Linked DNA regions of Homo sapiens: all the other regions are reported to be linked to region 1. The links are microRNA targets in miRTarBase. Many come from high-throughput screens and were not tested one by one. Region 1 holds a microRNA gene; each other region holds the end of a gene's coding sequence.
What was found. Region 1 holds the annotated microRNA hsa-miR-124-3p (UAAGGCACGCGGUGAAUGCCAA, at 1,464-1,485, opposite strand). A microRNA usually pairs through its seed, bases 2 to 8, with sites in the 3' UTR of a target mRNA and lowers its output. Matches are read on the target gene's strand: a 7mer-m8 pairs with bases 2 to 8, a 7mer-A1 pairs with bases 2 to 7 and ends in A, and an 8mer does both.

Region 2: miRTarBase lists CDON as a target of hsa-miR-124-3p. Seed matches in the 3' UTR shown: 7mer-A1 at 2,298-2,304 and 7mer-m8 at 1,660-1,666.
Region 3: the mRNA of VIT is a reported target of hsa-miR-124-3p. The part of its 3' UTR that is shown has no 7-base or 8-base seed match.

What each region holds. Positions count from the first base shown.
Region 1 is chr20:63,176,692-63,180,036 of GRCh38, reverse strand. MIR124-3 (microRNA 124-3) reads right to left here and starts at 1,537; the gene lies at 1,451-1,537. RefSeq lists a silencer at 753-1,042 and an enhancer at 1,330-2,290.
Region 2 is chr11:125,958,462-125,961,461 of GRCh38, forward strand. It overlaps CDON (cell adhesion associated, oncogene regulated), which reads right to left. Exons shown (of 20, transcript NM_001378964.1): 20 at 1-2,644. The coding sequence ends at 2,481. Among named protein-coding and RNA genes, the nearest start is that of VSIG10L2, 14 kb to the left of the region's middle.
Region 3 is chr2:36,813,726-36,817,070 of GRCh38, forward strand. VIT (vitrin) reads left to right here. Exons shown (of 16, transcript NM_053276.4): 16 at 458-1,069. The coding sequence ends at 636. Among named protein-coding and RNA genes, the nearest start is that of VIT, 120 kb to the left of the region's middle.

The sequences.
Region 1 (3,345 bases):
TCAGTGTTGTGGTCAGGCCGGGGCTTGCTGGGGCTGCCTATGCCACTTCTGTGCCCTCCAGGGGGAACCTGCCCCTGAGGAGACTGGTGGACCGTGTTCTGACTCTGCCTGGCTGACTGGGGTGGGGGTGGGAAGATGGAGGCACCAGTGGCTCCTGCTTGTGTCTGCAGCAGGCGACTTGGGTGGAGGGGCTGGAGGTCTGTGCTGAGGACAGCCGCAGAGGCAGGTTCCCTTTGTGGCCCTGCAGCGGCGGTGGTGGGGGTGGAGATGCCACTGCCTGAAACTCAAATGGTTCCTTTTATCCTGATCTTCTGCTCCCTGCCTTGGGCCTGGAGCTGGGAGAACTTCAGGTGACTCAGACTCCTGCCTCGGATTGAAGCCGGGGAGGAGAGGCTCAGCCTCTACCTGGTTAAGAGGAAAGAGGCAAAGCTGCAAAGCCAGGTCTGGCACTCGCCCCAGGGGAAGGGGGCTTTTGGGGAGGGGGTCGTCCTCTGACTGTTACCGGGGCATCACAGCCCAGCCGGGGCCTGGGATGGGCGCGGGGGAGGCGGCGCAGAGGCGGTGCCGGGCGTCAGCAGGTGGCGCTGGCTTCCGGGGACAGAAAAAAAACCCCTGCAGCAAACCCGAGTGGGTGTCACTGCGGCTGCAGATGGCGGCGGGGGAGGGATTTGTCATTTTCTCCCTGGGCTGCGGAGTCTCACGTGCCTGGTCCTGCACAGCCCAGAGCCGGCTTTGGGGGCGGGATGCGGTCCGGCGTGTCCACCGCCCTCGTTTGGACCCTGGACGCGGACGCAGACCCCCGTCCCCATGCAAGCCTGGTCCTGGGCTGCGGGGGCTGCTCTGGGGCCACAGCGAGCGCCGCCTCCGCCCCGCCCCGCGGCGCAGCGGCCCGAGGAAGGGCAGACTTAGCGGTGACCTCAGACCCTGCCCCACCTCCTCCCACGTTGCCGTGGCAACTGTCCAGGGCGCCCGCTGTGGGGGCGAGGGCCGCACTTGGCCGCCCTCCCGTCCCGCGGGGGCCGCCCCGCCGCCAGCACCGCGGACAGCGCCGCACCCTAGCCCGCCGCCCCACGCACCCGCCCGCCGCTCCCCGTGGACCCTCCCTTTGTCTCCCGGGCCCCGCCGCCCTCTGCGGGCGCCTGGGCGCTCCGCGCTGCGGACACACGTGGCCGGGGGCCGGCTGGCCGCAGCCTGGCCCCGGCCGCAGGCTCCCCCCTCGGCCGCCCTCGGCCGCCCCCACCCGCCCCGCGACGCCAGAGGCGTGCGGGCCCCTTTGTGTCCCGCGGCCAGATCCCCGGCCCGGCAGCTGGGCCGCACTCTGGGCGGGCGCATTGTTCGCCGGATTTGTCCGCGGCGCGAATGGCCGCCGGGGGCCGGGCTCGCCTTCCTCCCGCGGGAGGGGCGCTGGGCCGGACGGGCTCGCGGGCCATTTCCATGAGAAAGGAGCGGCGGAGGCGCCTCTCTTGGCATTCACCGCGTGCCTTAATTGTATAGACATTAAATCAAGGTCCGCTGTGAACACGCAGAGGGGCCCTCAGGGCTGGGGCGGGCGGCGAGCGTCGGGGCCAGGGTCGGGACCGGCTCGGGCTTGCGTGGGGTCCTCGCCCGAGGGGCGCGAACGCTCAGGCGTCTTCGCCGCGTGGCGGGCAGGGCGGGGGCGCTGCGCTCAGCCGACTGTGCTGTCCCAGTCCGCCCCCGACTCGGAGGAGCCCACACTTCTCCCCTTTCCGCGGCAGAGAGTGGGCCCCCAAGTGCGTCCCTCCGGGCGTTCCTGGAGCTGGGGCGCCCGGGAATCGCGAAGACGGATTCCGGGGGTGGGGGTGGTGAGCGCGTGCGCACCCGGCCGCCTCCCGCGGGGCTCCGAGGGGCGCAGAACCGCTCCGACTGGGCGGCGCGAGCTCCTCCGCAGCTGCCTTCCCCTGCCGTCGCCCTGCCCGTGCCGACCCAGGAGCGCGCACCGAATGCGGTTAAAAGAACGAATCTCGATGCTCAAAGATGAAAACTCGTCTCTTTTTACAACCCAGCGAGCTCGTCCTCTCCGCGCGCAGCGGGCCCGCGAGAAGGCGCTCGAGCTGTTCGTGGAGAGAAAGACGGGGAGACCCAGAGAGGCCGCTTGCCCGGCTCGCCCCGGCCCGGCCCCGAGCGTAATTACCAGTCCCGGCGGGAGCCGCTGCTGCCGCCTCCGCTCCCTGCGCCTCCCGCGCCGCCGCCAGTTCCCGCCTGCTCTTCGGCTCCCGGGGGCCCCGCGCGCTGCTGCCCTGGGCGGAGAAGGGCGCGGGAACCCCGAGAAGGGAGCCAGGCAAGTCCCCGAGCGCCGCAGGCCGGCTGCGAGCCGAGTGTCCACGGGGTCCACGCTGCAGGCGCCCAGCTCCTGCTAGCCCGGCCCGGCCCCGATGCAACTGTCCCCGCGCCCGCCGCCGCCGCCGCCGTCGCCGTTGCCTCCGCGCGTATCCGCGCTCCGCTCCGGCACCGGCCGATTATCACTGGGGCGCGCGGTGACGTCACCCGGACACCGGCCCCGCCGCTGCCTCCCCGAGGTGTCCTTGAGAACTGCGGGGCACGCGCGCCGCGCACACGCGCACACACGCACTGCGCGCCTCGTGCCTCCCGCGCATTCGCACCGCGTCCCGCCCCGCGCGCTCCTCGGCTCACGCGGACTCAGCCATCGAGCGCCCTCGACCGTGCCCTGCGCCCGGCGGCCACACGGAGACCCAAGGAAACGCCTGTCTCCCACACACTCCAGCCCCTCACATGGCCCTCCTGCACCCACGCGCGCAGCCCCTCCAGCTGCACATTGACACCTCTAGCCACACCCCGCCACGCGCACGCCTCGCCACGCGCACGCCTCGCCGGCACGCAGCCCAGCGGCACCCGCAGACACGCACCCGCACTCGGGCCCTGACCGCGGGTTCGCGTCTCCTGTCTGGCGCCTGCAGAACGCACTCTGCCGCGCAGCTCACACCGCGGTCCTCCAAGCCTCTCAGTCCTGAGAAAGGCAAGGGTCCCGCCGGCCTCCTGCGGATGGCCCTGCTGGGCTCCGTACAGTGGGGTGGGAATTAAAGGTCGTCCTTCCCCGCCCCCATCGGAGCTTGCGGTTCTCACAGTTTCAGACCGGGATGGGAGCTCTTGCCCGTAGGGACCACGGAATCACAGGCGACACTCCACGGCCCGACTGCAGTCACTGCCAGCTCGATAGGGTCCTTGGGGCGCCCCCGATCTGGCCCTCTAGGGCCAGGGATCAGTGGCTTCCCCAAGCCTCACCGTCCGGAGCCTCCCCCGCTGGCCTTTGTTTAGACTGCAAGGAGCGCAGGCCGGCGCGGCCGGCAGGCCTCTGTCCCCATCTCC
Region 2 (3,000 bases), not on the chromosome of region 1:
ATTAGGTAGGACTGTTTGGGTGCCTGTGCAGGGCAGAGCCAACTCACGCTTAGGGAGAACTCATACCGCCTAAATATAAAGGCAATTATATATATATATATATATGTGTGTGTGTGTGTGTGTGTGTGTGTTTATATATATATATTTATATATTTCAATATATAAAGGCATTTTTTATAAATAAAATACAATAAAAAGAATAACACTTAAAACAGCGTTACTAATAATATAAATAAAGCAGTCCACAATGAGATTGTCCTAAAGGTAAAGCCATTTTCTCTTCCTCGTGGACAGATCCCATATTCAAACTCAATCTTTAAAAGCAGTTCATGACCTAAGGCTCATGCTAATACACCTGTTTCCTAAATCAAAATGGCTGTCTACGGACAATGACTCCCCAGTTTTCTAAAACTCCCTTTGTGACAGCATTGCTGTAACTTGATTGGCTAACACAGGGTATGTTTTCATATTCTGTGCGCTGGGACTTTGTCCTTTGCTAGTCACAGAAGTAAGGGATGCAGCTATCCCCCTCCAGAGCTAACTGCATTTAAGCAACATGAAGAATAAATCCAGTATACTATAGGCACGGACATCTGGAATGTAGAACTTGGGTCTACAGCATCCCTAATATCCGACTAGGGAATTACATTCACTACATTCTACTGGAAGTAACTCTTGCATAGTGACCCAGCTTAAACAAGCACATTTTCACTAACAGTTCTATTATAAAATATATAGACATATGTAAGGGAATACTGATGCATTTATACAGAAAGTTGGTTAACACAGTATTGTATTCTATTCCACTGCGATTTCTGGGAAACTAACATTTCTTCACTTCTGCTGGAATTGCTTGACTCTATAGAAAGAGAATAATTTTCTGTTTCTTTCCCCAAAGGGATGCACAATGCACAAAGGAGCAGTGATCCTTGAAAGCTTGACTCAAGCTATGAAACACACTTACATAATTATTGTTTTTTAATGTGAAGAGCCTTCCAAAGGCAGCTGCAAATGTCCTTGTCACGCAGAGGCAGCCGTGGTCAGGAGCTCTGCTGACCAACTTGGCTTTAGGTGCCTATTTACAAGGGTGACATTCTGAAAAAGGTATCAGGAAATTTCAGGAAAAAAACCCAAAACAAACAAACAAAAAAAAACAAAAAACAAACAAACAAAAAAAAACCCTTTTCTTCCAAAGTAAGTCTTTTCTGACACTCACCCCTGCAGGCCGTTGCCTATGCTGGAGATGGGGGATGACTAGTTTCGGCGTCATGGCACCATAAGCGTGTCCCTGTGCTAATCCAACAGACTGGAGAGCTCCCGCCAAGACAGGCTCCCTGCAGCCCTCCCCTTTCTTTCTTCTGAAAATGTGTATCTTTCTCTTCAAGCCACCATTTAATGTCTTATTTTGTTCCTACTCCGAGAAACAGTCAAAAAGAGCCCATAGTGGCCATTTTATAAATTAATGTAATTTTAAAGCAGTGGGACATGAGGCATTATTTGTCTCTCTGGCCTTGGTTCCTTTTCTGCATACTGCCGTAATTCATCAAGACCTTACACTCCACCACGTCCATAACACTATGACTAGTGCCTAGCAAACTGAACATCACTCGTGCCCACGTGCAGATACAAAGTCAACAGGTCACATTACCACTTCTGTGGAAGGCACTCTTGTAAAATCCGTCAGCCAGGTCTGTTATTATAAACATGGGTCACAACTGCAGTTGATTTCAAAGTGTTCTCAGGAAGTCTGATAATACAGGCCAGACGTGGTGGCTCACGCCTGTAATCCTCGCACTTTGGGAGGCGGAGGCGGGTGGATCACTTGAGGTCAGGAGTTCAAAACCAGCCTGAAACCTTGTCTCTAATAAAAATACAAGACAATTAGCTGGACGTGGTGGCAGGTGCCTGTAGTCCCAGCTACTCAGGAGGCTGAGGCGGGAGAATTGCTTGAACCTGGGAGGCGGAGGTTGCAGTGAGCCAAGATCGAGCCATTGCACTCCAGCCTGGATGACAGCAAGACTCCATCTCAAAAAACAAACAAAAAAAAGTCTGAGAATACACTATTGAAAGACCATTTTCCACCTGAAAACCCAGCTGGTGGCAACCTTCAACGGGCCCCTGCATTCCCTCCTAGCCGAAGCAGCCAAGAGATGGGATCCTTTGCATGAGGAGCTCTTGCTGTCACTATAGCTGTTAGAAAACATGGAAGGACCCCTCTGCCCTCCAGGTGACTGAATACTATGCAAAACAAGGTTGTTTCCTACCGAGGGGGAGGAAGGAATGGGGAAGAAAACATTTAAGGCATAAATAATATAAAAGGGCACACGTTTTAAGATACATTCATATGACATTACTACTACAAAAAAATAAATAATGATTTTCTCTGATTTGAATTAAGGTCCTTCACACAGTTCGCTCCCAGGCCTGTTGTGTGCAGTTACCGGCTTGAAGTTGGAACATGACTGGTTGTTTGCATGTCCTCAGGTTTCCCGGGGCTGCTGAAGGACCTCTGTCGGGCTGTCTAAAGGAATGCCAGGTGGAGACCACATTGTCTTCTCAGCACAGCCCTCGGGGACAGGTGGCAAAATAAGAGCATTCCAACTTACAATGTTGATCTCTGTTTCTGAATGGGCACAGCTGTCTCCTGAAACACAGCAGGGTTTGGGAGCATTATCAAATGATAAAGGCTGATTTTTACAAAGCAGTCTAAAAACTTCTTCACACTTTGAGCCAAGAAGAAAGAAAAACGAGCATAAATAGAACCTGGTTTGTGTGTGGTTTGAATTTGAGGGCGACAGAAGGTTTAAAAGGTTTAAAATAAAGTTGAGCTCTCATGAGAAGCTATACAATTCACCTGAGAAGTAAAGCAACCCCTTAAAAGCCCTAAAATAACCACCTGAAAGAAAGGTTACAACTCCAGAACCAACTCAAATCAAAAAGGGGCTCATGTTCACAAAATGCATTCTTCCAGCAAGTCTTCTGCTACCCTACGAATGAAAT
Region 3 (3,345 bases), not on the chromosome of region 1:
GGCATTTAAGGCTCTCTCAGATTTTGCTTGGCTCTTCCCACTGGTAGAGCAGGCATGTGTCATGTATTCTGATCTGCATGGCCCCAAAAGTTTCACTTGTCCCAAAATATCTTCCCCTCTTCTATTCCCAAACATGAAATTCTTACCATGTTATTTACTCCATTTTGTTCATTGTTTCCTAAAATACTATAAACTCCTGAGATAACAATTATATAAACGTTGTTACTGTTGGCATAGAGTGTATGCTCAAAGGCATTTATTGAGTGAATAAATGAATGGCCATACTTAGTCTTTATTCTGGAAACCTAGAGGCCTGTAGCGTATTTTTGGTTTTGTTTTGTTTGGGCATATTTCTGATTTTGGATTTGGCTGTGCCAACAGGGCCACAAGAAGAGAGAGATTCTTTAGCAGCACCTTTACTTGGGGACATTTGTTCATCTAACCTTTGTCCCCACAGGAGTGATCACCTATGCGATAGGCGTTGCCTGGGCTGCCCAAGAGGAGCTAGAAGTCATTGCCACTCACCCCGCCAGAGACCACTCCTTCTTTGTGGACGAGTTTGACAACCTCCATCAGTATGTCCCCAGGATCATCCAGAACATTTGTACAGAGTTCAACTCACAGCCTCGGAACTGAATTCAGAGCAGGCAGAGCACCAGCAAGTGCTGCTTTACTAACTGACGTGTTGGACCACCCCACCGCTTAATGGGGCACGCACGGTGCATCAAGTCTTGGGCAGGGCATGGAGAAACAAATGTCTTGTTATTATTCTTTGCCATCATGCTTTTTCATATTCCAAAACTTGGAGTTACAAAGATGATCACAAACGTATAGAATGAGCCAAAAGGCTACATCATGTTGAGGGTGCTGGAGATTTTACATTTTGACAATTGTTTTCAAAATAAATGTTCGGAATACAGTGCAGCCCTTACGACAGGCTTACGTAGAGCTTTTGTGAGATTTTTAAGTTGTTATTTCTGATTAGAACTCTGTAACCCTCAGCAAGTTTCATTTTTGTCATGACAATGTAGGAATTGCTGAATTAAATGTTTAGAAGGATGACATGCAATGTTTCTGACTGTGTCTTTTGTACACAAGTTTCGTGGCAGGGCCACCATTTGCTCTCCTCAGTTCCCAGAGCAACTTCTCTGGGCTCACAACTGGCCTAAGGTAACAACACACCTGTAGAGGTGCAGAGACAATGTACAGTGATGTTGCTTCTCCTGATGTGCCTCCCTCGCTGTTGTCTGAGTCGATGAATACTTGCCACATGATGCTTTAGGAGCAGCCAGCTCTTGAGGACCAAGCTGATCTTGCTTAAAAGTGGGGCAGTAGACCAGGCGCGGGGGCTCACGTTTGTAATCCCAGCACTTTCAGAGGCTGAGGCAGATGGATCGCCTGAGGTGAGGAGTTCGAGAACAGCCTGGCCAACATGGTGAAACCTCGTCTCTACTAAAAATACAAAATTAGCATGGTGGCACGAACCTGTAGTCCCAGCTACTTGGGAGGCTGAGACACAAGAATTGCTTGAACCCAGTAGGTGAAGGTTGCAGTGAGCCGAGATTGTGCCACTGCACTCCAGCCTGGGCCACAGAGTGAGACTCTGTCTCCAAAACCAAAAGTGGTGTAGTAGGCTGTGCATTAGAATCACTTAGGAGACTACAGTGCTGGTTCCCAAGCTCCACCGCAGTACCAGTGAAATCTGAGTCCCTGGGATTGGAGCTTGAACATTGGCACGTTTTAAGAGCTCTCTGGTGATTTGTATCTGCTGCCGTGATCTAGAAGCACTGAGCTACCCTTGAGGAGTTAGTGTTACATTTCCCCAAAGAGGCCCCATTTTTACCTGCTGCCCTGGGTCCATCCAGTTGAGCATTTCTCTTGGATTTCTCATTTGTTAACCAAATATTATTGCTAGCTGCATTAAAATAAGCTGGGATGAGTTTGGTTGCACTTCACTTTTTACTTCCAGCTTCTCCAAAGACTCACCTATCAGCATGTGAAATATATGTGTAATTGGGAAATGTCCAAAAGAATTATAAATAGAGATGACTTACTTGATAGGTTATGTTTTATAAAAATATATTGTGAAGAATACTACTCTGAATGGGAGCAGAAACAGTAATTGTGTCAATATTTGGGACAAAATATTTACATAAAAAATTAGAATCGAGGATATCATTCAGTCAGCAGAATTTACACTGAGCTTACCAAATTTCTTAATAGCTGAAGAGAGAGTATATTGTCAATTGAAAATATTGTGGTCTACAGAGAAGAATCAATTAAAGGTGTCAACAATTTCAGATTTATTTGCCATAAAATTTACTTTGAATGCAATTACAATTTTGTCCAAAAACTTCAAAATATAAATCTGGGTTTTTTTTTAAAGGAAATTCTTCAGAAAGATACTGGTGACACTCTATTCATGCCAGACTCAGCTAAGAAGCTAATTTAGGCCGGGCATGGTGGCTCATGCCTGTAATCCCAGCACTTTGGGAGGCCAAGACGGGTAGATCACAGGAGATCAGGAGTTCAAGAGCAGCCTGACCAACATAGTGAAACCCCGTCTCTACTCAAAATACAAAATTAGCTGGGCATGGTGGTGCATGTCTGTAGTCTCAGCTGCTTGAAAGGCTGAGGAAGGAGAATCGCTTGAATCTGGGAGGTGGAGGTTGCATGAGCCGAGATGGTGCCACTGCACTCCAGCCTGGGTGACCTGGGTGACAGAGTGAGCAGAGTGAGTTTGAGACTCCGTCAAAAAAAAAAAAAAAAAAAGCTAATTTTAAAAACTTAAAGAAGGACTAAGAACGATTATTCCGCCTACATCTTTGCATGTGAAGATAAACCCCATAAAGGAGTTTTTCAACATTGCTTCCATGTACACATACAAGTTATTTGGATTTTTTAAAGAAATATTTTATTTTGGAAAATGGTTTTTGAATCTAGTTATTTTATAGGGGCCTTAATATAAAAACCAATTTGTCATCAATAAGTAAATATTTCCAAAAGTAATATAATTTTAATTATTTTGGTGTCCTCTTTCACTCACAAACCTGTCCCAGTTAGGAAAATAAATGATATGGTCACCCTAGTTATAGGCATTATAAATTTGAGGATAACTGGCACCTCTTCCAATGAGTCTGTTGTCTACGCATTGTCAACAAATATTGAGTGTATGCTATGGGGGCGGGGACAAAGGTCATAGGGAGTGAGACACTCAAAGGCTATGGTGGCATCAGAATTGTCGGTATGGATGTTCCAGTCACCAAAGACAATGACAGGAGTCGGGATGGAGAGAATATAGCCAGGCTCTGGCACCTTCTGCCAATGAGAGGAAGTGACTCAGAG